Homo sapiens: one gene and its partners. The protein of the gene in region 3 purifies or fractionates together with the protein of the main gene of each other region. This does not show direct contact. Each region holds a gene or a part of one and is shown on either strand. Other genes may lie near its edges.

What was found.
Region 1: the proteins of MAP1S (region 3) and STK4 purify together in Homo sapiens (affinity purification with mass spectrometry; 3 studies listed by BioGRID and IntAct, with this or other methods). This does not show direct contact.
Region 2: the proteins of MAP1S (region 3) and MAP1B purify together in Homo sapiens (affinity purification with mass spectrometry; 2 studies listed by BioGRID and IntAct, with this or other methods). This does not show direct contact.
Region 4: the proteins of MAP1S (region 3) and STK3 purify together in Homo sapiens (affinity purification with mass spectrometry; 3 studies listed by BioGRID and IntAct, with this or other methods). This does not show direct contact.

Annotation. Positions count from the first base shown.
Region 1 is NC_000020.11:45,073,981-45,081,881, forward strand, and holds the end of STK4 (serine/threonine-protein kinase 4), read left to right. Parts: intron 1-1,037; coding exon 1,038-1,196; 3' UTR 1,197-6,041; downstream 6,042-7,901. UniProt on the Homo sapiens protein: Stress-activated, pro-apoptotic kinase which, following caspase-cleavage, enters the nucleus and induces chromatin condensation followed by internucleosomal DNA fragmentation.
Region 2 is NC_000005.10:72,100,797-72,110,478, reverse strand, and holds the start of MAP1B (microtubule-associated protein 1B), read right to left. Parts: upstream 3,005-9,682; 5' UTR 2,948-3,004; coding exon 2,764-2,947; intron 2,555-2,763; exon of another isoform or gene 1,885-2,554; intron 1,705-1,884; exon of another isoform or gene 1-1,704. UniProt on the Homo sapiens protein: Facilitates tyrosination of alpha-tubulin in neuronal microtubules. Phosphorylated MAP1B is required for proper microtubule dynamics and plays a role in the cytoskeletal changes that accompany neuronal differentiation and neurite extension.
Region 3 is NC_000019.10:17,728,261-17,735,685, forward strand, and holds the end of MAP1S (microtubule-associated protein 1S), read left to right. Parts: intron 1-4,932; coding exon 4,933-5,168; intron 5,169-6,006; exon of another isoform or gene 6,007-6,012; coding exon 6,013-6,168; 3' UTR 6,169-6,253; downstream 6,254-7,425. UniProt on the Homo sapiens protein: Microtubule-associated protein that mediates aggregation of mitochondria resulting in cell death and genomic destruction (MAGD). Plays a role in anchoring the microtubule organizing center to the centrosomes. Binds to DNA. Plays a role in apoptosis.
Region 4 is NC_000008.11:98,453,357-98,459,803, reverse strand, and holds the end of STK3 (serine/threonine-protein kinase 3), read left to right. Parts: intron 1-2,510; coding exon of another isoform or gene 2,511-2,513; exon of another isoform or gene 2,514-3,565; coding exon of another isoform or gene 3,566-3,619; exon of another isoform or gene 3,620-3,803; coding exon 3,804-3,962; 3' UTR 3,963-5,171; downstream 5,172-6,447. UniProt on the Homo sapiens protein: Stress-activated, pro-apoptotic kinase which, following caspase-cleavage, enters the nucleus and induces chromatin condensation followed by internucleosomal DNA fragmentation.

The DNA of each region.
Region 1 (7,901 bases), on a different chromosome or scaffold from region 3:
TCATGGCATCTGCAACAGGCAGAACCACATTTTAAACAAAGGTTGAGTTACTTCTAAAACCTGTGCTTTGCTAGTCTTCTGTTCTGCAACACTGGTTAAGAGCATAGACTCTAGAGCCATGCTGCCTGGGTTTGAGTCTTGATTCTGCCACTTACTAGTTGGGAGACATTGGGCAGGTTACTTAGCTACCCTCCTCCTTGGGCTGTTCATCTGTAACATAGGGATAATAATGTCCTTGTAGCATGGGTTGCTCTGAGGATTAAAGGAATCCATATATGTAAAGCACTCAGTGTCTGGTGCATAGAAAACACTAAATGCCAGCCATTATTATTAATTTATATATCAACTCATTGTTTTTCTTTGGATGATAGAAACTTAATCTCAGAAGTTTGAGGTTTTTCTAACTACCCACCCTTACCCCAACCCCTGCCAAGGGTTGCGTCTGTATTCCCAAGGGGCTTAGACTGTTACCTGGTATATAGTAGCCTCAAGTAAATGCTGGTGATGATAATAGGGCAGTGCCAAGACATTGGGGGTGTGGGAAGGCAGGGTTAGGGGATGGCATCTGCGCCTCATCAGCATCGATCCTCCATGGTGTCGTATCCTGAAAGTGGGAAAGGCGCTGTCCAGATAGACGCTTATCTCGTAGACAGAACAAGAACGGGGAGGCAACCATTATTTCACATACAGCAAGTTACTGTTATTTTAATGCCCTAACAATGAATCTATATTTAATTAACTTAAAAGATAGGGGAGGTGAGAGTATTATTCACTAAGTTCTTGGTCAAGGCACATTAAATCAAAGCGGTTAGCACTTAGATCTCTTCCAGGGATAAATTATCTCAGACAAGCTTCAAGGTATGCCATGCTTTGGAATGAATTGTCACTTTCCAACCACCACCACTCAACCTGTGATCTGACCACAGTGTCTTCCTCCTGTCTCCCTTCCCTCTGGGTGCCTGGGAAGGCTGGGCTTCTGCACTGTTCTGCCACTGACTTAAGCTTTGTCGTGACTATACCTTCCACTTCTCTTCTAGCTTAAGAGTTGGACAGTGGAGGACCTTCAGAAGAGGCTCTTGGCCCTGGACCCCATGATGGAGCAGGAGATTGAAGAGATCCGGCAGAAGTACCAGTCCAAGCGGCAGCCCATCCTGGATGCCATAGAGGCTAAGAAGAGACGGCAACAAAACTTCTGAGCAAGGCCAGGCTGTGAGGGCCCCAGCTCCACCCAGGCTTTGGGTGAATTCTGGATGGCTTGCCTCATGTTTGTTAGCCAGCACTTCTGCTCTGTCGTCTCTCCACAGCACCTTTGTGAACTCAGGAATGTGCGCCAGTGGGAAGGGCTCTCTTGACAGTCAGCGTGCCATCTTGATGTGTGTATGTACATTGGTCAGGTATATTATCTCAAAGGATTTATATTGGCGCTTTTAACTCAGAGTTTTAAACCCCAGGAACAGAGACTCCTAGTTGAGTGATAGCTGGGAAAGTTTTACATTGTCTGTTTTTCTTCTCCCAATAGCTTTCAATTGTTCTTTCTGGAAGACTTTTAAAAAAATATAAATATGCATATATATATATAAATTATAAATAGATTCCCCACGCAGTGTGGTGGCATCTCTGTACAGGTACAGTTTTAAACGGTTTGCCTCTTTTCTGTAAGATTATGGTACTGTGGAACATGAGGGCAGAGGACACCGGGAGGCTGTTAGGGGGTCACTGAATCCCAGGAGCCAACCTCCCCCTTTGCAGGGCTGCATTTAAAAATTAGGTTTGGGACAGTTCTTGTACCGTGGTTTCAGCCTTGTGTGGTCATCACTGGCTTCTGGAGCTATTGGTGATGTCCAAGGGAAAGCTTTGAGAGTTTATGTTTACTCTTTGAGTCCCAGGAGAAGCCTGGCACCCTCTTTGCAAATTGGCCTTTGCTCTTTCAATGCCTTTCATCCATCTCCACTCTCTCAACTGCCTAAAGTCACAGCACAGATACTGCCCAGTGCCTTAAGAGGAGACATGATCTCTACCAGGGACTCTCAGCAAACACGGGACTGTGTTCAGTCCACAAAGGAAAAGCGTTTTTGAAGCTCTCATTGTTCATGTAAAAATCATACACGTGGCATGTTGCTCCACATTCCTTACACACAGGGGTAGAGGGGATTGCTTTTGTGACCCACGTTCAAATATGTGACTGTTTTCTTTTCTCTTTTACTGCTAAGCAGCCTGGAAAGGATAAATGAATATTAGACTAAGATTTGTTTTCCAGGAGGCTCAATCTGAACACACAGAATGTCAGAGCTGGAAGGGACTATAGAGATCATCTGATCTGATCCTCTTGTACGGATGATCGCAAAACTGAGGTGTAGAGAGGGGAATGGCCAAAATCACAAAGCAAGTTAGCGTTAAGAGCTGAGACTAGAATTCAGGGTCCTCACTCCCAGGCCACCGAACCATGCAGCCCCTTCTTTGGGGGAAGAGACCTGTGTCAGTCTTGGTTAATTGTTCCAGGGAACCTTGCTAACAGAAACTTGCTCTTGCCTTGGCTCTTCAGTAGATGACCTGGCTGTAAAGAGATTCCCTGGACGAGCCAGATCATTCAGTTTCAGCGAGTCCTTGAGCTCCACAACATCTACCAGATATAGCAGACAAGCACCCATGGAGGCAGGTTTCGGGCCTGAAGCAGATCAGAGGGCTTTGCAAAAGACAGCATAGAGCCATCTTCCTGCAACTTTACCTCTTTCCCTCAGATGGGGAGCCATGACTGGGTTGCACCTCAGGATACTGTAATTTGACTCCATAATTGCTTTTGCTCCTGAAACCTGGGAATCAATGGAAAGGCAGGGAATGTGCCTCTTCTGTGGCCAGATTCTGTTATTTGCAATTAAAGCAAGTTTTTAAAAAATGCAAGAGGCAGTTGTTAGTCTTCAGGGCTTGGCAACTGAAATAGCTATGTGGCGGATACGGAAAACAGAGGACAATTTGAGGATCTTGCTGGAATAATAAATGACAGCTACCATTTGTTGAGCACCTATTATATATCAGGCACTGAGCTGGGTAGGCTCTAAACTTCACAATAACCCTGTGACTTAACTACTTTATCTCCATTTTGTAGTTGAAGAAATAAGTTCAGAGAGAAAGATTCCTTCCCAAGGTCATGCAGCTAGTAAATGATAGAATCAGGATTCATAGCATCACTATAGGGGGTCAATATTTACACAAAAAAGGAAAGTCACAAGCCTGTTTAAAATGAAGTGACCACCTTTTCTTGCATAGACTAAATAACTCGAACTGGCATTTTTAGGTTGGAAAGACAGCTGAATTAGTAGTTAAGTCTGATAGCCAAGTAAGTTTTAAAAACCAAAGCATCCAGGATGCACACCCCTGCACCATTTGCTGTGCGAATTAATAGTTCTGTCTCTCTCTCTCTTTCTTTTTTCTTTTTATTCTTTGAGATGGATTTTCGCTCTTGTCGCCCAGGCTGGAGTACAATGGCACGATCTTGGCTCACTGCAACCTCCGCCTCCCGGGTTCAAGCGATTCTTCTGCTGGGATTACAGCATATGCCACCATGCCCAGATTATTTTTTTGTATTTGTAGTAGAGACGGGGTTTCACCATGTCAGTCAGGCTGGTCTTGAACTCCTGACCTCAGGTGATCCACCCGCCTCAGCCTCCCACACTGCTGGGATTACAGGCATGAGCCACCGCTCCTGGCCTCTCTTTCTTTTTTAAACAAAGAACTTTGCACTTGGCCAGAGAGGAGGAGAAAGCCCATTTTCTCCCTTCCTAAGCTAGATCCAAATAAAAGAAAGTTCAGTTTTCCCCCATAACTATTCTTGGGTCATGAACTTTGATCTGGAGTTTGTTTTGTTTCAGGAATGTGTGCACCCAGCTTGCTGATCCAACAAAGTCTATTGCTTACCAGTCTAGCTTGATGAAGCCTTTTGGCCAGAAGTCAATTTGTTTTGGATCAGAGAAATTTCCTGACAAGGTATATTTGTTTTCTAGTGACAGAAAGGCAAAGGAACAAGTCCTAGTTGTTGTTGTTGTTGTTGAATACTAAATTTAAGATATGTCAGCTTGCTTTCAATGAGCCTTGGGCTTCTGTTATTGCTTGAGCATTTGGAACTCGAGCTTCCAGAGAAATTTGAGGTCCTCGCTTGTTCTCTGCCTTCAAGAAACAATGACCTGATTCTGTCTTTAAAAAAAAAAATCTCAGAATTCTTTTTTTGTTTGTGTTTTTTTTTTTTTTTGAGACAGAGTCTCACTCTGTTGCCCAGGCTGGAGTGCAGTGGCGCCATCTCGGCTCACTGCAACCTCCGCCTCCCAGGTTCAAGCAATTCTCCTGCCTCAGCCTCCCAGGTAGCTGCCACTACAGGTGCTGCACCACCACGCCCGGCTAATTTTTGTATTTTTAGTAGAGACAGGGTTTCACCATATTAGCCAGGTGGGTCTTGAACTCCTGACCTTGTGATCCACCCGCCTCGGCCTCCCAAAGTGCTGGGATTACAGGCGTGAGCCACCTTGCCTGGCCAAAAATCTCAGAATTCTTTAAGACTGTTTTAATTGCTCCATCAGTAATTTTGAAGCACTTTCCTTTTTTTTTTTTTTTCCCCTTTTTGTCCCTTTCCCCAAGCCACCAATTGGATGGATGAATGTTTGACGGGGAAGAGGAAGGGTAGGAGGATGCATGGATGAGTGGATGAGTGGATCGATGGATGTATTGATAAATAGATAGAACCAGTCATCTGAAGCAACTTAAGAATTGTAGCCTTGACTCCTTGAGACTGTAGATTTCGATCCAGGAAACATTTATTTAGCACCTGCCAGATGCCAGAAATTTATACCATTTAAAACTCAGTAAGTCTTTTAAATATCAGGAAGGAGAGAAGCGACATCATGATACATCCTATGGGTATTAAAAAGCCAATAGAATATTATGAATAATTTTATGCTAATAAATTTAACAACTTCAACATCATAAACAAATTCCTTGAAAAATAAAAAGTACCAAAATTCATTCAAGAAGAAATAGATACCAGCCTGAGCAACATGGCAAAATCCCATCTCTACAAAACATCAAAAAAAAAAAAAATTAGTCGGGCATGGTGGTGCACACCTGTAATCCCAGCTTGTCAGGAGGCTGAAGTGGGAGGATCACCTGAGCCCAGGGAGGTCAAGGATGCAGTGAGCCATGGTCTCACCACTGCACTCTAGCCTGGGTGACAGAATGAGACCCCGTCTCAAAAAAAAAGAAGAAGTAGATAATCTGAATAGCCCTATATCTATAGAAACTTAATAGTGCTGGGAGATATAGGTATTATTATCCTCATTTTACAGATGTGAAAATTGAGGCTCAGAGAAGTAAAGTCTATTGCTCAAGGTCATGTGGCTAGAATATGGCAGAGCCATGATTCAGATCCAGGTCTTCTGATTCTTATTCCAGTGTCCTTTCTAGCATACCATGTTGCCTCTAAAGATTGCAGCTCCTTATTTACTAGAAAATTGTTCCTGCCCAATCTACATCTCCACCTCACCCCATCTTTTCTTAAGCACTATGTTTGTGTTTTTATCAGTATTATATTCATTGTCTTTGGAATACATGTTCTTGTTTGTGTTTGGAAAAAAAATCTCTTTTACCAGCTTGCACTCGGACCAACTTGGAAAAAAAAAAGCTTAAATGTTTTTGCTATGTACAGTTTAAAAATGTGAAGTTTGTAGCTTTAACTTTTTGTAAGAAAATCTAATAACACTGGCTTAAGTGCTGACTTGAAATGCTATTTTGTAAGGTTTGGATGTAAGTAATCAATTGAGGTCAGCAGTTTGTATGAGACATAGCTTCCTCCATTGCCCCCACTCCTTTTTTCTTTTTTAAGTTTGAGATGCTTCCTGTGTTTTTATGTTAGAATTGTTGTTCTCCTTCTTTTCTTCTTCCTATACCTCATCACGTTTGTTTTAAATAAACTGTCCTTTGGACCACAAACCCTTATTAACGAGAACCTCAATATATAGCCTGGATAATGGTGTTGTGAACAATCTTTGTGACATTGACTCAGTGGTGTGTTTATTCTAAGATCCAAAGCTGGGGAGAGGTTGGTAAACTTTTGTTGGGCTTCTATTATGTGCCAGGGTACTGAGCTAGTTATCAGGAATATAATAAAGATGAACCAGATACAGTTTTTGCAGGGCATTTGGGGAGTTAGCCAAGCACAAAAACACACAACATTGAACATACCATGGTAGAAGAAGGTACAGGGCCTGTGGATACACAGAAGAGGGAGTGACGGTTCTGCTGGGATGTCCAAGGAAACTCTTCTAGAGGAGACAATATACCTTGAAACTTTAAAAATGAAGAAGAGATGGCTAGATTAATAAAGAGTAGGAAGTGAGGGAGAGAAGACATCCTGGACAGAAGAGCCCGCCTGTATAAAGCCTCTAGTGTGAGATGATCACCTTGGAATCCTTCATCCTCATCTGCTGCTGCACGAAGCCAGGCCAGACGTGGCCCAGCATTCAGAGGTGGAACAGCAGGTTCCTGCCCTGGTGTGGCCCATTCTTATCCAGGAATAGTTCTCCAGCCTGACCCTAGGTTTTTTTTTCAGCCTTAAAAGTTGACCCCACGGCAGAGAGGGAATAGAGTTACATTGAAAAGTAAGTGTAGTTCTCTTGAGTGAAATTGCTCTACAGTATTTAATAGAATAGTTCCACAGTCTGTGTATATAACTGTCATGTTATTCTGTGGGCCTTTCTTGGAGTGGGGTGATAAGTGCGTTTATTGTTCCCTAACTTACTCACCTCACTCCTTGAAATATTTAGTGTACCTTCCTTCCTGTAGCCAGGGTTGATGACAGATGTTCCTTATTGATCACACTGAGAACCTATGGCCAGATGAAGGAAAGAAGGAAGGATGAAGTAAGTTTATATTTATTAAGCACTTATTATCTGCCAGGCACAATGCAGAGCCGTTTAGATGACTTCATTTGTCTTCTCACACACACTCTTAGGTAAATGATAGTGTACCCTTTCTATAGACATATGGACTTTTACAGTGTGCAGTACTGCCCACCAGGGGGTGTTTTGGAAATGTATGAGAGTGTTTTTGTGGTGATAGTGATTGAGGAGCCTTACCAGCATTTAATGGGCAGGGGCAGGTTTGCTAGATGCTCTGCAGTGCATTCTGGGACAGTCCTGCATAACAAACATCTGTCCGGTGTCCAACACAACATTCAGATGTTCCACTGGTTATTAATTTTGGTGAAAATTTTGTTTATAAACGTGATACTAAACCAAAGTTCATTTACATGTAAACACAAAGTACTTTTTATATGGTTTTACTGTTTTGTTTTTTTTAAGAATGAACTATGAAGAATGGAGAGACACTTGTAGTTTGTTTTGTTTGGACCTTTACTAAGAGTTGTTCTCCATTTCAGAAAACCACATCATCAGTGACAGCGATGCTTGTGATTTTTGAGTCACTCACTCAAGATTGGTTTAGATCTGTAGCTGTTGTTTTCACAGAAAGTCTATGTAACATGTAAACACATGGTAATTTCAGAGAATGATGAAGTACAGCAAAAAGAAAAGAACAGGGTAATGGGATTGAGAGTAACGTGTGCATGTGTGTGCATGCACATCTGTGTATGTGTAGGGAGAGATGGCTTTATATAGAATGATAAACGATGCTTCTGGAGAAACGATGTTTATAATGAGAACTGCATGACAAGAAGGAACCAGCCAGGCTGAGGGGACAGCAAGAACAAAGACCCTGAGATAAAAACAAAAGTTTGGCTTGTTGGAAGAATGGAAGGATTCTTCCATGGCTGGAACAGTGTGTACAAGGTGGGTGAAGGCAAGAATGTTCAGGGCCTTGTGGTCCATGGGAAGGGGTTTGGGTGTTATTCCTGATGAGAT
Region 2 (9,682 bases), on a different chromosome or scaffold from region 3:
TGAAAAGCTATGGGAGCAGGATTTTCACTTAGCGCTGGAAGGGCCTGCATCTTGAGCTGCAGCCAAGACCCCAGAACCCAGGAGAGCCATCTTCAGAGGAAAAGCAGCATCTGCTACGGTGTGTAAAGAAACGGCTCTGCTCACTCACTTGGTTGATTCTTAATGGGATCAATACAGTCATTTCGGAGTTCCATGCAAAAACCTGACCAAATTAGGGAATTAAAAAATCAGGAAGCCATGATGTCTATTGCAAAGGGAACACAAGGGGGCTTCTGGGGTTCCAGTAATGTCTGTTTCTTGATCTGGGTAACCCAGGCGTGTCCGTTTTGTGAAAATTCGTTGAGCTGCTCATCTTTGATTTGTGCCCTTTCCTCTCTATATAATACTTCAACCGAATTTTTTAAAAAATTAATGTCAAGAAGACAAATCTGAATTTTGTCACTAAGTGCTAGTAGTGTAAAAACGAGTAAAGGCAGGGAGCCCTTCTTCATAGCAGTACGTGGATGCGTCTGTTTTCTCCATAAATAGATGCAGCTTGTATAAACCCTCTGAGGAATAGGGCGCTGAAAGGATGATCAGATGAGTAACAAAGCAGGAAGATAATTACGATCCGAAGGTGATTGCTGAACCATCTCCCAGCATGGGGCGCTGCCCACAAGTGGATGGCCATACAAAGGCAAGCCCTGAAAACTGTTGTACTGAAACCTTCCTCCCATCATAGGATGTTAGCCAACCCTGCACTAACATCATGACAGGGTCAGAAAACGAGTGACGCTGCAGTACTGGTACTTCTGTCACTTATGAGTGCTGTGACCTTGAGCCGGTTCTCTTACCCTTCCTGCCTCTCTGGGCCCCCAGCTCTAAAACGGGGTTGATGATCCCTCTCCTAGCACCACCACATCGAATGGTTATGAAGATTTTGTAGATAGAAAAGCACCTCCTAATATATTCCTATTTCCCAGAAATGCTACTTACAAATAATTTTTTAAAGAAAAAAATCCAAAGTCATTGATTCCCACAATAGCCACACCCAAAGTCAGTATGTGTAAAATTTTTCCAGGAGAAAATTGTGCAAATAAACTAAATTAGAACAGATTAGACCAAAGGCCTATATAGTCTGAAAATGAAGGGTTATTGAGATGCTCAAATAAGACATTTCACTACTGAAATATCTCTTGTTCTTGAATTTTTTGGAATAAAATACTATGACTTTCTGCTCACATTTTTTTTCTTTTTTTTTTTTAAGCTAAAAGGGAAAATCAAGTGCTTTAAAGTTAAACAAAAGAACCAGGTCTGCAACTCCAGTCCCCACCCTGCAGCCTTTTGTTCTGGGGACAAGTGGCCGTTTCCAACTGCAGAGGCAGATGACAAGCATTTATTTTTTCATCTAAAACAAGGTTTTTCTTTCGTCTTTTATTGGGGAGGGGGAGTGGGGAACGAGGGCTGCGTGAACGCCCTTTGTCCGCCTCGGGCTGCCGTAGAGACCGCAGTGCGGACTGCACCACGCCCACCAACCGGTGTCTCCCGGAGAAACGCTTCAGCACCACCCCAGGAGAATAGAGCGCGGGCTGGGGCTGCGGAGGGACCCGGCGACCTCTGTCAGGAGCGAGGGGAGGGCCGGGACGCCAGGGATAAAGGGAAAGGCAGAGACCAGAGCTGCCCACCCAGGGACTCCCAGGGCAACAAAGCCAGGCAAACTGAGAGGTGGGGGCGCGCGGCCCCCGCCAGCCCGAGGCCCGGGCGGAGCGCAAGCCCAGCCAGCCGTGCCCGACGGGGGCGCCGCAGTGTGGGGGGGCAGGTGTGGCGGGCGGTCCGGAGGCACTGCGGCAGCTCGGGTGGGGCTGGGGGCGGTCTCTCTGTGCGCCCGAGGCTGTGCCCGCCGGACCCTCACGGCCCCGCCCAGGGTCCCCGGCGTACCGCTATTCGGCCTCCGCAGAGCGCGCCACTGGTGCGAGCACCGGGCGAGGAGCTGACCCTACCCGCTGACGTCTCCCTCACCGACCCCCTTCAAGCTACCACTCCCGAGGCTGGGACTTCTAAAAGCAGCAGCCCCACCCCGCAACTTGGGGTCCCATTGTCCTTTCTGAGAGCTGCAGCCAAGGCCCCAAGGGCGGTAGCGAGGCGGGCTCTGTCTGGTGGCGAAGCGCAGGCGGTTCTGCATCCCAGCATCTCCCCGGGGAGGGGGGGGCGGGGGGAGCGGGCGTGGCCCTAGGACTAGCCTAGTCATTCTGAGGAAAGAAAGGATCGGGAGGTTTGAAATCAGAAAAGGCGTTTCTCAGGGGCTGAGGTAGCCGTGGTGAGGATGAATCCCACGCGGGCCCTGGCACATGGGCTTCGGCCCCAGGTCTGCGGTGGTGGGGGTCCCAGCCTTTTCCTGAGGCCAGAAGAGGACTGAAAGGAGTGGTTGCATCAGGTCTCCCCCACCCTTCTGCCTCCTGCGGTTGCGGCTTTATTGTGGCCTCTGCTCCCCTGACACCTGCATTTCACTTAGCGGGAGAGGCGGTGGCCAACTCAGCACAGGCTGCGGACTCAGCGTGGTGACAGATCCCTCAAGGTTATTGGAGACTCTCCCTCTGGGTCTCATATCTAATAATTCGGATTATTCTTAATTAGCCCAGAAAGGGTCTGGACCAAGTATGAGAGGTGACGAGGAGAGGCATGGGTGCGGGGCGCGCGGGAGGAGCGCAGTGACCGTCGCGCCCTGGGTGGGGTCGTGTTTGCGCGTCTCCCAGCGCGCGTCTCTGGGGGCGCGGGGCCACTTACCGAGCTCGATGTTGCCGATGGCACGCCGCAGGTGCTCCTCGGTCACGATCTCGCCGACGACCACCAGCAAGTAGAACTTGCTGTCAAGGAAGCGGTGCGACAGGCTAGGCGAGGTGGACGCCGCCGGGTTGGCGATGCTGCCGGACGGCTCCGGCTCGGTGGCTTCCACCACCACGGTCGCCATCCTGCCGGCTGCTGTGCCTCGGCGAAGTGTCTCGCTCCGGCCGCTCCTCTCCACTGCGGCAGGAGAAAGGATTATCTCCGAAGGTACTGTCTCCGCTCCGCCCCCTGCGTCCCCCCTCCTCTGGCGCCGCGCGCCGCCTCCCCCTCCGCCCTCTCCCAGCGCCGCGGAGAGTGCGCGGCGGAGAGGAGCGGGGAGTGAGAGAGGGCGGGGAGGCGGCGCCGCTTTTATATGGAGACTAGGCAGGGAGCCGGGAGGAGGAGGAAGAGGAGGAGGAAAGGACCACCCGGCACATCCTCACGCGGTGGCTGCCTCCGCTCTTCCAGCCGTTGGCCCGGGGCTGATGTCATCTGCAGCAAATCATCTCGCCCGCGGCCCGGAAGCTGGAGGGACGAGGTGTGCGGACAATGGTCGGGGCAGGGCCGCGAGCCAAGGGGCTGGGGCGCCCGCTGAGCTCCTGCTGCAGCCGTGAAGGGGGAAGACGCTCTCAACCTACACCACCCACCACGTACACACCCACTGCCCACTCCTCACCCTCACCCTGTCTGTGCATGGGAATGGGATGAGTTTCCATTTTCGGAGTGGGGGTCTTTTCTCTTGTTGGAGTTGCACTAGTCAGGCCTCTGCCTTGTGTGCTGTGTATGATGTAGCCAGGTTCTCAGGAACTGGGATAGCCACAGTGGGCAGATGCGGGGCTGTGGGTACCCCGCCTAGGAAGACGGAACCTGTCTTTTCTTTGACCTTGTGGCTTTAAGAAGACGAATTTACTGATATTTACCAATATCAATATTTACCACCTTCACTTAAAGAATACATCAAAAATGCAAAACTTAAGCCTACTATTGTTCAGGCCTTGGATTCTACTCTGGCAGGGCCAAGGATGAAAAAGTACTGGCTTTGTGGTGCTCATGGGAAATGAGAGAAATGCAGATGTATTATATTAGATACCAATTTCTTTCCTTAATGTGCTGAACAGATAGTATCAGTAATAACAAAGAATAAAGAGAAGATACTGTCTCTACTCAGCAGGGTTACAGTGACTATAATGTACTTTTCAGTTCCTTGGGGAACACACAAGCAAAATTACCTCGTGACAATGATGTCTTTTAAAATACCTGTAGCATTGGGAATTTTTATTGCCTTTGTTTGTGTTTAGAAGAACTAAAAAATGTGTTTTTTGTTTTTGTTTTTTTGTTTTTTTTTTTAAGGCAGCCTATTTACAACCGTTTCTCACAAACATACTGAATATAGCTTCTGTCCCAGAAAAGGGGAGGAGGGTGAGGAAAGAGCAAAATGTGCAAACATGGTATCATAGAAGACTGGGGAATTCGAGCTTTAAGGAAGAGGAATAGATGGAAATTAGTCAACATAGCTTTAATACTAGAATGCCTGTTAGTAAAATATAGATGATAGATAGATAGATAGATAGATAGATAGATAGATAGATAGATAATCACCTAGATATTCTTAAGATTTCCAAAATAACCCAGTGTCTTAGGTGTTAGCTGCCATGACTTATTGGTCATGTACTCTTTGCTCTTATATCTTTCCTGACACCCTGGCATGGGAGACATGCTGGGCAGCCAAGGGCTGGGGGGTTCCATCCAACATGTCAATCTGATCAATGCAGAATGAAAATACCGTCTGGCCCGCAGTATTTGGGATCTGTGACAGGATCACTAGAGAGTTGCATTCACCAGTAATTAGATGAAGTGTTTCCAACTAGCTGCATTCACCAGTAACTAGATGAAGTGTTTCCAGATAATATTTTGGTTAAGATATTCAATTGCTGTTCAAGAAGTAAGGCCAGCACCAAAGCCCATAACTGGGGTGAGGGGCAGGAAATATGGTGAAGAGCACTGTTTTCTAAAGGTCATCCGTTGGATTCCAGCCTCATCTAGTTTGTGTTTGGTTTTCCTTTCTTTGAACCATTGTTACTTTTATGTATGTAATAGTTTTCTTTTATGCAGTTTATTTCTTTTACTTAAATTTATTTTTAAATGCAATTCTATGTTGCTGTATAAATGGAAACACTAATATCACTTATTAATAGAAAGTATCCCTAAAAATATACACAATGAAGATAAGATGTGATCAAATTCCTGCTACATACTGTTATGATTTGCTCAAGACTCTGAGTCCAAGGCTCTCCTTTCTTGGTTGAAAACAGAGATTGGCCAAGTGTTAGAGAGGTATTAAAGAGATACTAACACCTAACTGAGTTGTTCTCCATGTTGCAACAGAAGATTGGATGAAAATTATAACAGAGCGCTTTCTTACTGTGTGTGTCTGTGCAATTAAACACCATGACCGTGACCACCTAAGTCATCACCCACACTTTGAAAAATAGAGGCATAATGGGAGAACACAGACTAGGGATGCAGAATACTACTTTACAGCTCGGTAACTTTGGCAAGTGACTTACTCTTTTTGATCTTCCATCTCCTTATTTAATGAGAAGAAGAACATCTTTATAACTGTTAAAGTAACTGTAAGAAAGAAGGAAATGATAGAATGTGTAAGCACCTAATACAGTGGCTGGGCATAGTAAGCAATCAAGGGATGGTTGATTCATTGACCTGTTTTCTCCCAGTTACTAAGACAATGGAGCAAAAGCAGTCTTATAAAATGTGCAAGTGATACTGCTACAACACCTCTGAAACAAGAACAGAATATTACATTATTATACTTCAATACTAGAAAAGTAGCCCCTTCCCCTCTTCATCCCAAGAAAATGTATACAGTTCTAAGGAGGAAAAAGGGGGAAAACTAACATATAAGAGCACCAATATTGCCAGCTGCTCAACTGACATCACCTGGATATACCAAAGGCACCAGAATCTTGACATGCTCCAAACCCAAATCATCTTTTACCTCTAAACGGGATCCTCTCTCATTCTTGTTATTTCAATGAACCATAACACCATGTATCCCATGATGCAAACCAAAACCTCACAAATATTTTGGACTCTCCCCTGACCCTTAGCCTCGTGTGCAATCCAGCATGGAGTCTGGTCAATTTCACCTTCAGTATCTCTTCAATCCATCCACGTTTCTCCATTATCACCAACCTAGTCCAAGCTAGCATCATTGTGATAGGTACTAGTGTACCGGTTAGAAAATGGGTTCTGGAGTCAGACTGCCTGGTTTTGAATCCTAATACCATAATTTATTAGCTGTGTGGCCTTAAGCAAGGTGCTTAACCACTCTATACCTTGGTTTTCTCATTTGTATAGTAGAGATGAGTACCGACCTCATGGACAGGAGGACAGTTTAAATATGCAAATTACTTAAAACAGTGCCTTGCATATAATGAGCACTTAATAGGGATTAGTTGTTTTTGGTATGGGGTTAGTTGTTTTTGGCTGTTATTGTTTAACATTTTACTATGGAAAATTTCAAACAGAGAGAGTATAATGTAAGTAACACCCACATACCCATTATCCCCAATCCATAGATTTTTATAGTTTGCTTCTTTAAATCAAGATTGAAATAATGTCTATATATTTCAACTGATTCATCAGTCTTAAACTCCTTTGATCTATGTAATCCTGCTATTTTTTTCCTTGTAATTTTCTGTTGAATAGTGGCAACATTGTTCAGCAGAGTTTCACAAAGCATAAATTTTGCCGATTGCATCACCTGTTGTGTTATTTAACATGTTCTTCTATCTTCTGAATTTTCTGAGAGAACTAAAGTCTTGATCAGATGCAGATTTGATATTTTTTACATGTATACTTCATAGGTAATATTGTGATCTTCCATCAGAAGGCACCTAAAGACTAGTTAACCCTCATTCTGTGATTTTAGCAGCTATTGATGATCATTACCTAGATCCATTATTTCACTATGGATTGAAAAAATGATAATATTCTAATTTTGTTATTATTTATTTGACAGCTAGAAGACTTCTGTTAGGAGAAGCGTTATCCTGTCAGTTGATTACCCTGAGGTACGGTATGTACAGGAAAAGAAGGATAAACAAATGATTTTTTCTCTTTATTTACTGATTTTCAAAATAATTAATTTATTCCAAATCATTCTCTAAAGGTGACTAATTTTTTGTATCATTACAAATATAACTTACATTATTCATATTGATGCTTTCATTTTTTCATCTTTGGCCAGTAGTATGGTAAGGTATCCCTAGCTTACCTTGCACATATCTGGCCTCAGAACCTGGAATGAGCCGTTTCTCTATGGAATCCAAGTTCCTTACGTGGGTAATGGTATTTGGAGACCCCTGTATACCAGGTGCTACTACTATTTTGATCATTGTTTCTAGATATTTTCAGTGGACAGAAATATGAAATAAATTGTTTTTCAAGTATGAGTTCATACTTATACCTCTAACTCAGAATCGGGACTACAGGGATTTTGCCTAACGTTTTATCTTGCATCTGTATTTCCTTTGTCCTATGCCTAGAATTCCAGTTTTCAAAGACTCCAAGGTGACAGAATTAGAACAGCAGATAGTTTCTCATTTTTCTTGTTCCACAATATATACAAATTACCCTCATGGTAGTTTTAGATACGAATGCAACACTTTTGCCAACAATGTGATTACTAAAAACATTTTAAGGTATATAGTTTTTTTGTTTGTTTGTTTGTTTGGTTGGTTGGTTGTTTTTTTTGTTTTTGTTTTTTTTTTTTTTTTTTTTTTGAGACCGATTCTCACTCTTGTTGCCCAGGCTGGAGTGCAGTGGCGCCATCTCGGCTCACTGCAACCTCTGCCTCCCAGGTTCAAGCGATTCTCCTGCCTCAGCCTTCTCAGTAGCTGGGATTACAGGCACCCACCACCATGCCTGGCTAATTTTTGTACCTTTAGTAGAGATGGGGTTTCGCCATGTTGGCCAGGCTGGTCTCAAACTCCTGACCTCAGATGATCTGCCCGCCTCAGCCTACCAAAGTGCTGGGATTATAGGTGTGAGCCACCGTGCCCAGCCTAAGCTATATAGTTTTAAAGTGTAATTAATTCTGTTATATATGATCGTGCCACTAACTCAGTGCATAGTTATGTTCATTTGTTTCATTTTGTTTTCAGTTTTTATGAATTGATTTTTACAATTTAATTTTGCTTTATAGTAATGTAAAATATTTACATGGTTCCAAGGTGAAATCTACAAAACAATTTGTATTTGGAGAACTTTAGCCTCTATCCCTGTCCCCTCCAGCTTTCTCCCTGTCTCTTCCTGTGAGTAACAATTTTTTACCTTGATTTAGCCTTTCACTTTAAAAATGCAAGTAGCAGCATATACATACAATTTTCTCCACTTTGCTTATTTCATCAAACACTATATCCCGGCTATAACGCTACAATAATATATGTTAATATTCCTCATTTTTATTTATAGCTGCATAGTAACCCATTATGTTTATTTACTATAATTTACTCAACCAGTCCATTGTTGGTGAACATTTGAGCTATTTCCAGTTTAATTTATATTGTAAACAGTAGGTCTAGCTATTTTTTTTTCCCATGCAACCTCAATAGTCACCTTACTGGCATCTGTATATCCACAATGACTCACCCAATCCATGCTTCACACAATATGGAGAATGATCTTTTCTGATCTGGTTTTGTTGCCCCATCTCCACTTAAAACACAAATGGCTCCCCATTTTAGAATAAAGACCAGACTTCTCAGTGTCACCTACAAGCTGGTCCCCATTTATCTCAGCAGCTTCATCTGGCCCCTCCACTTGCCCTTACTTTCCAGCATCAGCCACAATGACTTTGTGCCAAACCATCCTTCCCTCCAACACAGGCTTTCCCTTGCTTTTCCTCCTGATGAGAGCACTACTTTTGTCCATTTTCTGTTGCTGTAACAGATTACCACAGACTGGGTAATTTATAAAGAAAAGACTAGTTGAACTCTATGCTCCACAGGAGCAAAGAACATGTCTATCCCCACCCCCACACACCCTTTTCACACCCACCCAGCCACCCATATACCTTAGCATTCCTCTTGCTCAGCATAGGGCATATGCTCAGTCAAAGCATATTCAATGACTAAATGAATGGCTTCTATGAGCCATGGTAGTGTGCTAGGTGCTTAAAGTACTTCAGTGAATTCCCACTGGTATTATTTATATTTTTGATGGCTTAAAGTCTGTATTGATGTCTCTTTCTCATTTCTGATCTCGATAATTTGTATTTTCTTTGTTTTTTTCTTGATCAGTCCAGCTAGGGGTTTATCAATTTTGTTAATCTTTACAAAAACCTACATTTGACATTATTGATAGTTTTCTATTTTATGTATGTGTATATATATTTTCATTGAAGCTGTTTTTATCCATGCTGTTTTGCTCCTAATTTCTTTGGGTTTTATCTTACTTCCTATTGTAGCTGCTTGAGAAGCTTAAGTAATTAATTGTCAGTTTTCCTTCTTTTCTGATAAATACATTTAAGGCTAAATATTTCTAACTCCTGCTTTAGCTGCCCTGTACACATTTTGATGTGTTGTGTCTTTATTGTCATTATCATTCATTTCATAACATTTTCTAATGTCATTGTGATTTCTTTTTTGCCATTAGTTATTATTATTGCTGTTTGACAGATGAAAAACTGACATGGAGAAAAGTTAGACAATTCCTCCAAATCACAAAGATAGTAAGTTGAAAACTTGTGAAAAGAACTCTGCTATGTCATATTTCAAAGTCTATGACCTCCCCTATATGGTACCTTCACTGATGCTATTGAATTTAAAGCAAATAAAGGAAATGAAGCACAGCCCAA
Region 3 (7,425 bases):
TTTTTTAAAAGAGATGGTCTCACTCTGTCTCTGAGCTGGAGTGCAGTGGTGTGGTCACAGCTCATTGCAGCCTTGAACAATGGGGCTCAAGCCACCCTCCCACCTCAGCCTCTCCAGTAGCTGGGACTACTGGCACCGCCACTACCCCTGCCTAATTTTAAAGTTTTTGGTAGAGATAGGGTCTTACTATGTTGCCTGGGCTGATTTCAAACTCCTGGCCTCAAGCTGTGTGCCCACCTCAGCCTCCCAAAGTGTTGGGATGACTGGCGTGAGCCACGGTGCCCTGCCAGTTCTGTTCTTTTTTTTTTTTTTGAGACAGAATTTCGTTCTTGTTGCCCAGGCAAGAATGCAATGGCACGATCTTGGCTGACTGCAACCTCTGACTCCCGGGTTCAAACAATTCTCCTGTCTCAGCCTCCCGAGTAGGTGGGATTACAGGTGCCTGCCACCACGCCTGGCTAATTTTTGTATTTTTAGTAGAGTTGGGGTTTCACCATGTTGGCCAGGCTGGTCTCGAACTCCGGACCTCAGGTGATCTGCCCACCTTGGCCTCCCAAAGTGCTGGGATTACAGGCATGAGCCACTGCACCCAGCCAAGTCCTCCTGTTCGTAATTACTTCGTGACCTCAGCCGTGCCCACCTCTCCGGGGCTCAGTTTCTCCTGTGAAATGGAAACTGACCTCAGTGTTGAAGCACTTGCCATTCTGAGGTGCCTGGACAGGTGAGCACGTATGCCAACTGTGGGTTTCTAGAAGCCACAATAAGTAAAATGAAACAGTTGAAAATTTAAATAGCGTATTTTATGTAACTGATTGGTTAGGAGGACCCGGCCTATGGTTGCACTCATAGCAGAGCAAAATCAGCAAAGAGAAAAGGCACATAGGGTGAAGTCCAAAGGAAACCAGGCAGAAGCTTCCAGAATCCTCTCCCAGTGGGGCTGCACACCACAGGCTTCATTTCTCCAGTAGCAAGTTGTAACAGTGTGTCCCTCATGGAAGCTCATTAGACACAGCATGCCCAGGTTTCCTATTGGGCCATTACATAGGCATCTTCTGCCTGGCACCCACACTCTAGACTCCCCAAAAAGGAGAAATCAGGTGTGTGGTCCAGTCCAGGCACAGGGAGCCCCTCTCAGACAGGGAATGGTGGGAACCCTCTGCCTAAGATCCAAATTCCCAGAGACCAGCCAAAGGCTCACATTTTAAGCAGGCCTTGCTGAGAGGAGGGTCTCTGGCCTGCTGTGCTGTTCTTTGTTTTTTTTCTGAGACAGAGTCTCACTCTGTCATCCAGGCTGGAGTGCAGTGGCGCAAACATGGCTCACTGCAGCCTCGACCTCCTGGGTTCAAGCAACCCTCCCACCTCAACCTCCCGAACAGGTGGGACCACAGACACGCACCATAACGGCCAGCTAATTTTTTTTTGAGATGGAGTCTTGCTCTGTCACCAGGCTGGAGTGCAGTGGTGCGATCTGAGCTCACTGCAACCTCTACCTCCCGGGGTCAAGCGATTCTCCTACCTCAGCCTCCCAAGTAGCTGAGATTACAGGCATGCGCAACCATGCCCAGCTAATTTTTGTATTTTTAGTAGAGATGGGGTTTCACCATGCTGGTCAGGCCGGTCTCGAACTCCTGGCCTCGTGATCTGCCCGCCTCGGCCTCCCAAAGTACTGGGATTACAGACGTGAGCCACTGTGCCCAGCCTACGCCCAGCTAATTTTAAAATTTTTCAGTAGCACTGGGGTCTCACTATGTTGCCCTGGCTGGTCTTGAACTCCTGAACTCAAGTGATCCTTTGGCCTCGGCCTCCCAAAGTGCTGGGATTATAGGCATAAGCCACCACGCCCGACTCAACGTTTAATTTTGGATGAACCGCCAGACTGTTTTCCACAGCAGCTGCTTGACGCTAGCCAGTCTAATGGGTGTGAGGTGGGATCTCATTGTGGTTTTGATTTCCATGTCCCTAATGATTAGTGATGTTGCATCTTTTCATATGCCTATTGGCCATTTGTCTGTCTTCTTTGGAGAAATGTCTATTCAATTCCTTTGCTCATTTTAAAATTTTGTTTTACTTTTTAGAGACAGGGTCTCGGTCTGTTACCCATGCTGGAGTGTAGTGCAAACACAGCTCATTATAGCCTCAACTTCCTGGGCTCAAGTGATCCTCCCAGCTCAGCCTCCCAAGTAGCTGGGACTACACAGGTGCATGCCATCGTGCCTGGCCAATTGTTTAATGTTTTGTAGAGATGGAGTCTCACTATGTTGCCCAGGCTGATCTTGAACTCCCAGCCTCAAGCGATTCTCTCGCCTTGGCCTCCCAAACTGTTGGGATTACAGGCATGAGCCACCATACCTAGCCCCCTTTGCCCATTTTTAAATTGAGTTGTTTTCCGTTGCTGAGTTTTAGGAGTTTTTTAAATCATTCTGGACATTAATCCTTTAGCAGATAAATGGCTTGCAAATATTTCCTCCCATTCTGTGAGCTGCCTTTTTATTCTTTTGATAGTGCCCTTTGATGCACAAAAGTTTTAAATTCTCATGAAGTCCATTTTGTCTATTTTTTTCTTTTGTTGTCTGCACTTTTGATGTCAGACCCAATAAATGATTGCCACATCGATTTTTTTTCTTTTTTCTTTTTCTTTTTTTTTTTTTTCAGATGAGTCTGGCTCTGTTGCCCAGGCTGCAGCATGGGAGCACTATCTTGGCTCACTGCAACCTCCGCCTCCCGGGTTCAAGCGATTCTCCTGCCTCAGCCTTCCTGAGTAGCTGCGATTACAGGCACCCACCACCACACCTGGCTAATTTTTTTTGTGTTTTTAGTAGACACGGGGTTTCACCACGTTGGCCAGGCTGGTTTCAAACTCCTGACCTCAAGTGATCTGCCCGCCTCGGCCTCCCAGAGTACTAAGATTATAGATGTGAGTCACCATGCCTGGTCAAATCCAACAGTGAGAAGCTTCTACCCCATGTTTTCTTCCAGGAGTTTTAAGTTTTCCATTTCACATTTAGGTCCATTTGGAGGTAATTTTTGTATGTGGTGAAAAGATCCAGTGTCATTCTCTTGCATGTGGAAGCCCAGCTTTCCCAGCACCATTTGTTGAAAAGACTATCCTTTCCCCATTGAATGTTTGGAACGCTTGTTGAAGATCATTTCAGCATACATGTGATGATTTATTTCCGGGCCTCTATTGTATTCCATTGGTCTATATGTCTGTCTTTATGCCAGTGCCACGCTGTTTTGATTACTGTAGCTTTGTAGTAAGTTTTGAAATCTGGAAGTGTGAGTCCTCTATCTTGATTCTTCTATTTCATGATTGTTTAATCTCCTTTTCACATTGTTCATTGTTCATGTATAGAAATTCAACTGTGTTTTGCCTGTGGACTTTGTACCTTGCTTCTTTGCTGAATTCGTTTATTATTATTTTTTGAGATGGAGTCTCACTCTGTCGCCCAGGCTGGAGTGCAGTGGCACAATCTCAGCTCACTGCAACCTCCACTTCCTGGGTTCAAGCAGTTCTCCTGCCTCTGCCTCCCGAGTAGCTGGGATTACAGGCACCTGCCACCACGCCCAGCTAATTTTTGTATTTTTAGTAAGAGACAGGGTTTCGCCATGTTGGCTAGGCTGGTCTTGAACTCCTGACCTCAAGTGATCTGCCTGCCTCAGCCTCCCAAAGTGCTGGGATTACAGGCGTGAGCCACTGCACCCCCAGGCCTGATTTTTTACATTATTGTTCATAAAGTCTGTTGAACTGGCATTTTCTTGTAGAATTAAATATCTGTGCCTGGCTTTGGTATTAAGACAATTCTGGTCTTATAAAATGAGTTAGGAAGTGTTCCTTCCTCTTCAGTTCCTCGGAAAAGTTTGAGAAAGGCTGATGTTAGTTCTCTAAATGTTTAGTGGCTTCCCCAGGGCTTTTCTTTGTTGGGAGGTCGTAAGTTACTGATTCATTCTCCTTGCTAGCTACAGGTATGTGCTGATTTTCTATTTTTGTGATTGTGTCTTGGTAGTTTTTGTGTTTCTAGGAATGTGTCCATTTCGGCTGAGGGTATGCATTTGTTGGTATACAGACGGGGTAGTACTCTTACCCCCTGAGCTGGGCAGCAGCTGTGATTGTAAGATGCAGGGTCTGGCAGGCTTCTTGTGCCCGAGACCCAGCCGTATCCTTTCATTTCATTGATCATTCACTTGCCCAGGGCTGGTGGCCTTGTCCCCTTTGGCCCTAAGGTCAGGGTTTGGACAAGGCCCCCAGAGCTGCTGTCTCATCCGCATCCAGCATCCCGCAGTGATCTTGGGCCCGCCTCTCAAGGCTCTGTCCACCCACCCTGGCTCCCCATCACCCTTGGGGCAGGGATTCTGTCTGTCTTGGTCACAGCCCTGTTTCAGGGCCTGGTGCCCATGAGGTTCTGTTAAATGCCCCTTGAGCAAGTGAACCAGACAAATGCTGCAGAAGCAGCAGATGGTCCAGGCACTGGCTGCTTTCAGGGCTCAAACTCTTAAACCCTCTTCCAGGAAGCATTCCCTGATTGCCACCCACTCGCCCCCCAGCCCTGGGGATGTCTATGTCCAGGGACTGGCTGGGGATGAGTCAGGCTCTAGGCACAAAGGGGTGGCCGGTGGTGTTTGTAGAGTGAGTGAAGAGTCACTGGAGTCAAGGCGTGGTGACATGCACCTGTAGTCCCATCTACTTGGAAGGCTGAGGCAGGAGGATCACTTGAGCCCAGGAGTTTGTGACGAGCCTGGGCAGCATAGCGAGACCCCATTTCTTAAAATAAGATTCACTGGAGTCATGAGCGCACCAGGCCTCCCCAGAAAACTCTGAGTTCAGGCCTCCTGCTGAGGAGGGAGCTGCTCTGAGTGGTGCAGGTCGAACTTGGAGCCTCGGCCCCTCCCCAGCCCCAGGAGCTCATCCCTGCCTCCCCATCCCCCCGCCCGCAGGGTCAGCCAGCAGCCGGCCCGGGGTGTCAGCCACCCCACCCAAGTCCCCGGTCTACCTGGACCTGGCCTACCTGCCCAGCGGGAGCAGCGCCCACCTGGTGGATGAGGAGTTCTTCCAGCGCGTGCGCGCGCTCTGCTACGTCATCAGTGGCCAGGACCAGCGCAAGGAGGAAGGCATGCGGGCCGTCCTGGACGCGCTACTGGCCAGCAAGCAGCATTGGGACCGTGACCTGCAGGTGCGTGTCACCCCAGGGCCTCTGGTGGTAAGTGTAGTTAGCACAGATGGGTAAAACCACCCTCGACCCTCAGAGACTAAGCTGTGTTCCCCAGGCCACACGGGAATGGGGGCGAATGTGGGAGTCTCACATGGCTCAGCCCTTAGGGGTCTCTTCGGACTCTGATTCTGTCGTGTCACTGTTGTCATTGGCTGTGCTGGAAGCCTGGGGGAGGACGCAGGGCCTCGTGAAGCCTCATGGTTCTATCCCTTCCCCAGACACCTTGTCACTTAGCCATTGTTCCGCTGTGAGAATTAGTCGGGATGGAATAGGTGGGCTGGGTGGTATCTGTGCGGCTGAGAACCCTCCCCCATGGCTGCATGAAGCTGAGAGACTGAAACCAAGCCCTGCAGGGCGAGGTGCATGTGGGCAGAGGGAGGACCGCCTCACACCGCGGCCCCTGCCCTCTCATAGCTGCTAGGCTGGCTTCAAAGGAGTGTCCCTGTAGGGTGCACGACCCAGGAAAAGGCCCAGAGGTAGGAAAGAGGTTGGTGTGTTCAAGGAGCAGGGGGAGATCCAAGTGAGTAGAGAGGGGTCTCAGGCCAAGGAAGGCCTTGCAGAGGAGGAGCTCCGTCTCCTGTGTGCTGAGAAGGCTCTTTGGGTGCTGGTTGGGAGGAACAGGGACCTCACAGACGGGCTGACCACCCATTGCAGACCTCAAGGTGGAGCACACAAGATCAGGGAAAAGCCAGGAGGGGTCTCAAATGCCAGGAAAGGAAGGCGACTTGGGCCCAGGCCAGAAGGGCAGGGGGCACCCCCCTCACTGGTGGTCCACTCTCCCCACACACCCCCCCTCCACCTGCAGGTGACCCTGATCCCCACTTTCGACTCGGTGGCCATGCATACGTGGTACGCAGAGACGCACGCCCGGCACCAGGCGCTGGGCATCACGGTGTTGGGCAGCAACAGCATGGTGTCCATGCAGGATGACGCCTTCCCGGCCTGCAAGGTGGAGTTCTAGCCCCATCGCCGACACGCCCCCCACTCAGCCCAGCCCGCCTGTCCCTAGATTCAGCCACATCAGAAATAAACTGTGACTACACTTGGCTGTGGCCTCTCTTCTTTCTGTGATGGGAGACTTGGCATGTACCTCCTGGTCCTGCGGGTGGGGACAGCTTCCATGGAATCCCCAGTGACCCTGCGGTCAGGCCCACTCTGGCCTCCATGTCGCAGATGGGAGAAATGCAGGCTTCGCTGGGCCTGGTTTGGGGAAGGAAGTGCCTCTCAGAGTTAATGACCACTGACCGGTGGAGCTCCTGACTATGGCCTCCATCCCGACTCAGCAACTGTGAGGGGCCCAAGTTATAGGCGCGAAGTAGCTACCTGACTATCTGTCACACAAACCAGTTGGTGGCAGGGGGAGATTGAATACCTGTCTCTGCTCCAAAGCCATCAAACAAAAGCTATCCTGCTGTCCCTAGAGGAGATGGATGCTTATTCCAGAAAGTCTTACTCTGCAGGAAGGATTTACAGAGGAATCTGAAACCCAGAGATTACAGAATATCCACTTCTGACTAATGCACCCTGACCCCTCTCTGCAGAAATACAAGCACTTAGGTTTACTATTAGATACAATGTCATCTGTACTGGGTTGAATGGCAGCCAGCCCCCAAAACACATTCAACACCTGACCCCTGACACCTGTGAATGTGATGTTATTTTGAAAAAGGATCTTTGCAGATACAGTTTTATTATTTTTTGAGATGGAGTCTTGCTCTGTCACCCACGCTGGAGTGCAGTGGGGCGATCTTGGCTCACTGCAACCCCCGCCTCCTAGATTCAAGCGATTCTTGTGCCTCAGCCTCTCTAGTAGCTGGGATTACAGGCACACGCCACCACGCCCGGCTAATTTTTGTATTTTTAGTAGAGACGGGGTTTCACCAGGTTGGCCAGGCTGGTCTCGAACTCCTGACCTCAGATGATCCACCCGCCTCGGTCTCCCGAAGTGCTGGATTACAGGTGTGAGCCACCATATGCCTGGCCCTTCACAGGGTCTTACGGTCACAGGGTAGGTGATCAGGAAGGGCAGGTGGAGCAGAGGAGCCATGCCTGTGCCTGCCACCTCCTGTCCAATGCCTGCTAGCAATGCCAAGATCGCTAAGCTCAGCCAGCCACCTCCCACTTCCACCTACCCACCCTCCACACCTCTGCAGCGGAAACTTAACAGGGATGGGAGTCCTGGGAGAAAGGCCCCAGCCTAGGCGAGTTGACACAGCAG
Region 4 (6,447 bases), on a different chromosome or scaffold from region 3:
CACTCGCAGGCCCAACACCATGTGGAAGCCACCAAGGCTTGAGCTGAAGCCATGGCCCGAGCTGTACCTTGGCCCCTTTTAGCCATGACTGGAACTGAAATGGCTGGGATGCAGGGTGCCATGTCTCAAGGCTGCACAGAGTAGCAGGGCCCCTGGGCCTGGCCCATGAAACTAATTTTCCTCCTAGGCCTCCATGCCTGTGATGAAATGGGGCTGCTGGCAAGATCTCTGACATGCCCTGGAGACATTTTCCCCATTGTCTCGGCTCCTTATTACTTAACGCAGATTTCTGCTGCAGGCTCGAATTTCTCCCCCAGAAAACAGGTTTTTCTTTTCCATCACATCATCAGGCTGCAAATTTTCCAAACTTTTATGCTCTGCTTCCCTTTTAAACATAAGTTCCAATTTCAAACCATCTATTTGTGAATCCATAAAACTGAATGCTTTTAAGAGCACCCATGTCACATCTTGAACACTTTGCTGCTTAGAAATTTATTCCCCCAGATACCCTATCATCTCTTTCAAGTTCAAAGTTTCACAGATCTCTAGGGCAGGGGCAAAATGCCACCAGTCCCTTTGCTAAAGCATAGCAAGAGTGATCTTTGCTCCAGTTGCCAGTGAGTTTCTCATGTTCGTCTGAGACCACTTCAGCCACGGCTTCATTGTCCATATCACTAACAGCATTTTGGCCAAAACCATTCAACAAGTCTCTAGGAAGTTCCAAACTTTCCCACATCTTCTTAACTTCTTCTGAGCCCTCCAAACTATTCCAACCTCTGCCCATTACCCAGTTCCAAAGTTGCTTCCACATTTCAAGTATCTTTATAGCAGCGCCCCACTACCTCAGTGCCAGTTAACTGTGTTAGTCCATTTTCACACTACTATAAAGAAATACCCAAGACTGGGTAATTTACAAAGGAAAGAGGTGTATTGATTCACAGTTCCATGTGACTGGGGAGGCCTCAGGAAATTTACAATCATGGTGGAAGGTGAAGGTGAAGCAAGCCTGGACCTTCTCACGTGGTGAGAGGGGAGAGCAGAGTGAGATTGAAGAAGGAAGGGCCCCTTATAAAACCATCAGATATTGTGAGAACTCACTCACTATCACTAGAACAGCATGGAGGGAAACTGCCCCCATGATCCAATCACCTCCCACCAGGTGTCTCCCTAGACACATGGGGATTATGAGGATTACAATTCATGATGAGATTTGGGTGGGGACACAGCCAAACCATATCAGTAAAGTCTTAGGTTACAAAATCAGTGGTACAAATCAGTAGCACTATTATATACCAACAGTGACCAAGCTGAGAATCAAATCAAGAACTCAACCCCTTTTACAATAGCTGTAAAATAATTAATAATAATAATAGTAATAGCAATAAATTACCTAGGAATATACTTAGCCAAGAAGGTAAAAGATCCCTACAGGGAGAACTACAAAACACTGTTGAAAGAAATCATGCATGACACAAATGGAAATACATCCCATGCTCATGGATTGGAAGAATCAATATTATGAAAAAGACCTTACTGCCCAAAGCAGTCTACAGATTCAGTGCATTTCCTATCAAAATACCAACATCATTTTTCACAAAATTAGAAAAAAATCCTAAAAGTCACATAGAACCAAAAAAGAGCATATGTAAATACATGTGTGTGTGCACATGTGTGTGTGTGTGTGTGTGTATATGTGTGTGTATGTGATATTGAGACAAAGTTTTATCACTTAAAGAACTAAGATTTAGGTACTTCATTAATTTACTTACATGAACACCTAATTCCTTAATAATGTTAGATAATGTTTCTCTAATATCACAGACCTGTTTTTCACAAATTTTACGCATTGATAATATAAAAATCTGTTAAAGGAAGAAAATTTTTCTTCTAAGTAGCTTCTTTTTCTGAGTTCAGTCTATTACTGCAATACAATATTTATAAACCTATTGGCAGTTTGCCCCAGTAAAAGTAGTACAAGATATTTACAGGAATATCTTAATTCAGAATTAAAGTAATGATAATTGTTTGCTTTATATAATATGTTAGTTCTTCTGATCTTAGAGTAACCCACTCCTTTGGGTCATATATTCTTATTCATATTTATCTATCTACGTTTACGTCATGTTATTTGCAGTATAGTAGGATAGTTTCTTGGTGTATGTACAGTCTCTAAAGTCTAAGTATTTTTTGGAATATCTAGGGACATGAAACTCATGCATAAAAATCAATTATAAAATAGTACATGATTTAGAATCAAATACTAAATTGTGTTGTTTAAATTATGAGTGTTACATAGAAATTTAGAAATGGGAAAGATTAACATGGGCTGAAATAGAGATGATGTTGAAGAACACAGAAGTGGAACTGGATCCTACATAGACATAGTTGGGCATGTCTTTCTTGGGAAATGTGGTTGTGTGGTATACATTGGCCTTTCAATGTGGCCATTACCGATGTGTACAGTTCAAAGTTTGGAGTTTCCCTGTTTGTCTTATTCTGTATCTCCACAGTGATTTGAACAGCACTGAGCATGTAACAGATGCAAGATCACTACTTGGATTAAAAATCAATGAAGAAAGTGTATAATACTACATATGATATATAAATGTATGTTTTATGGCATAATATTAAAAGCTAGGTTCTTTCATGACATATGACTACAAAATAACAGGGCTGATTATTAATATACATACCAGAACTTCTTATGCACCGAAGTGAGTGGCATTCACCTTCAAAGTCATCATCATGGAAGCCTGCATACTCTTCTCCATAACACTGTCATTTCTCAAAATATTTTTGGAACTCCTTTTTTGAATTTCCTTCAGAGAGTCTATGACTCATTCTTTTCAGTATCCTCAGAGTCTTTTTCAGCTAAGAGTGAATTTGGTTTTTGGAAGCAGAAGTCACGATAGGGCCAGGGATGGCGAGTAAAAGGATCTGCTGAGAAATGCTACTTTGGATGACTATAAGTAATGAGTATTTTTCCTAGCTTGACTCATAAAATAACCAAAGGCAATTATCTTCTTAAAACAAAAAGTAAGTTGCAAGTTTTATCATTTTAAAACCAAGCCTGAGCTGGGTGCAGTGGCACATCCCAGCTACTGAGGAGGTCAAGGCAGGAGGATCTCTTGAGCCCAGAAGTTTGAGACCTTGTGTCAAAAAAAATAAGAAGAAGAAGAAGAAGAAAAGAAAACCAAATCTGGATTACTCTTACATAACTGTCCTACTCCAGAATTGATCATGGCTTCCTGCTTTTGGGGCCCCACCAGGCCTATTCAGCCTTACTTCCCGCCCCCTACCACAGTCATCTTCTTTATTAAGCATTTAGTAAAATGGAGGATAGAATGGTTAATTTAACCTTTATTCAGTCTTGTCACATTCTTGAGTGATCTCTGCAAGTGTTCATGATTATTGTAGCACTCAGTAGCTGGCAAAGATGTAAAAAGTTAGAGTGAATATACCTGGAACATATTCTGAAAATCTGTTTGTTGGCAGTGGTGGATTTGTCTTTGTACCTTTTTACAAATTCCATCAGCGTATTTTTCTCATTTGCCCTTTATTAAAGGCAGAGGATCGGATTGCTTCATTGCAGATTACTGGAGGTTCTTGCAAGATATGACCTCTGAGTTCTTCAAGGAAGAAATTCCTGTTTTAATTGTTGAACTATACTTCAAAGATGATGTAAAGAATTTGCTGAAATATTTATGTTAAAACTCATTAGACATTAAAGTCTAATTTCATTGTATTGATTGTGGATAATGTGGATAATTTCATTGTATTGGTATCTTTCTTTCTGTATCTAGTTGAAAAATCTAAGTTTAGAAGAACTACAGATGCGGTTAAAAGCACTGGACCCCATGATGGAACGGGAGATAGAAGAACTTCGTCAGAGATACACTGCGAAAAGACAGCCCATTCTGGATGCGATGGATGCAAAGAAAAGAAGGCAGCAAAACTTTTGAGTCTAATTTCCTCTCTGTTTTTAACTATTCTGGAGACCAAGAAACCACTAGGAATTGAAGGAATATTTGGATATTTTTAATCCTAAGATTTTGCCCTACAATTAGGCAGAGGTCAAAAAGTGACAATGGTACATGCCCAGGTAAATTCCCAAAAGGCAGAATTGACAGTTGTATCTGCTGTGCATTCACTCTAAGATGAGGAGAACAAAAGAAGTGTATTCTCTTGTTCTGTCAGCTGCATACCAGTAATAAAACTGTTATGAAATGGATTTTCAAGGTCTCTAAACCTTGAAAATCCAAAGCTATTGTTGCATTGTACAGCACTGAAGGGCTTTATGTTACAATATTCTTTATTCCTATCTAGTATACTAGGCTATTTATTGTATCCCCTTAGGTAAACTTATTTATTTATGCTATTTTGCTTTGTTTCATTTTTTAAGGACAAGATCAGGATAGCTTTGGTGAAGGTAGGGTCATATTAATATGATGATAATGTGCAACCAATTTATACTTTCTGCAGGGAGCTATGGGGTACATTCCTTGATTTCCAGGATAGTTTTTCAAATAGGAAAGCAATAATGGCAGTAGTTCTCAAATGGGCTAGGCCTTTTTTATATTGAAGCAATAATTCCATTTTTACCCTTTGAAATTTTGTTTTTTTGATTTTTGATGTTTGGTACAAATAGAACTATATATATTTAGGTAAAATAGATCTATCGTGTTTAAAACCAAAGAAATCAATGGAACCCTTGCACAAAAAAGTGTGATAAATATTTTTAAATAAAAACTTAATACAAATGTAATTTGTTAATATTGTTTCATGTTTTATGTGTAGATCTAATAGCTGAACTGATTCAAACTGTAATAAGCTCATCAATTTCATTTCTATGAAAATGTGCTCTGTTGTCACAGGATGTTTCTGTTGATTTTATTCATTTCCTGGGAATTGGTAAACATCATGTTCCTGATGATAACCCAGTAGCAAAAACATTTGTACTGAGTGGTACAAGCCTTGGGGACTGAAAAAAAAAAGATTAAAACCATTAAAAAGAAACTCATTTTTACGCTGAATGAACATTTATATGATTGCATTGGGACCAGTCATTTCCTAAGCTACATATGGCCATCTTGACAGTGTTTTTTCTTTTGTGTGTTTAATTATTATGTGTAAATCATAAAGACAAATAAATTTCACTGTGCCACCCAGCATATTTCGTTTCTGTATCTTTGTTAAAACTCATGACCTGGACTCTGCATTTTCCAAGCAAGGGACGTATATTAGTTAGGACAGGCTAGATTATGCAGTGCTGACAACCCTCACCCTTCAGCGGCTTCACATAATACAGGTTATTCCTCACTCTTGCTCCAGGCCCACCCCAGTTTGGCAGGGCGCCCTGCTCCTATCATCCACACCCAGGGACCTGCTGACAGGGCCTCAACCATCTGAGATATCTGTGGTCACCACAATAAGGAGAAGGGGAGCTGGAGAGTTTCATACTAGCTCCAGCCAGTAGTGATACATGTCTGGTTGGCCACAACCCAGTATTCAGAATTAGTCACATGGACACTCCTAACTTCGAGGGAGTCAGGAAGAGTAGCATCACCACGTAGCTGGAGGGGAGAGAACAGGAAAAGCTGATGAGTTCACTAATGTCTGTCACAGAAGGTATATTGTCTCTGGAAAGCTTCCATTCCTTTTTAAAAATGGTATTTGTACCCTAGGTAATGCCTCAAAGTGTCATTTGTCTCTACCCTGTTGAGCCCTTACAAATAATAATAAATTGTATAATTGGATACAAATTATAAGATTATAAAAAGAACGATAAGTATGAAACATACAAAGATTATTAAAAAATGAAGAACTGAATTTACAATATATGCTTCAGCAAATCTATACTGGAGTCTGTTGGGGACAGTTGTGTGAGTTGATCAACTGAAACACCCTGCCCTTTTTTCTTTTCCTAATTATTTTTCTTTTTACTAACCTGTTCGATATCTTGCCTGATTTGATGGAATCAAATGACTGATTTGCTGTCATCCAAGCAAAACCACCTACATGACATGGACAAGAAACCTATGAAGATGATTTCTCTTCAGTTTGCTAAATTAGAAAATGTATGCAAATTAACTCAGCGAGGCCTGTTAACCACTCTTAATTCAATCTCGAGAGTCCTCCTTTTAATATGTCAAGTGTTCCACTCACATTGCAATTTTCTGCAGTTAGACTTTATATCCTATTATATCTATGTCTATTTAAGTGTATGTACACAAATACACACATATATTTAAGAGAATTAAGAGGAATGGGCATTGTTTTATTTTAGAGCCCTAGGAAACTCCAAAACATTTTAGGATGACCTACTTTTAAATTTTTCCTATCTTCTTACTCTTTGCCCCTACCAGTCAAAGGAATTTAAGATATGTTTTGAAGAATCACAAGCCATGAAAGAAATCTGCCTGGGTGCAGTGGCTCACACCTGTAATC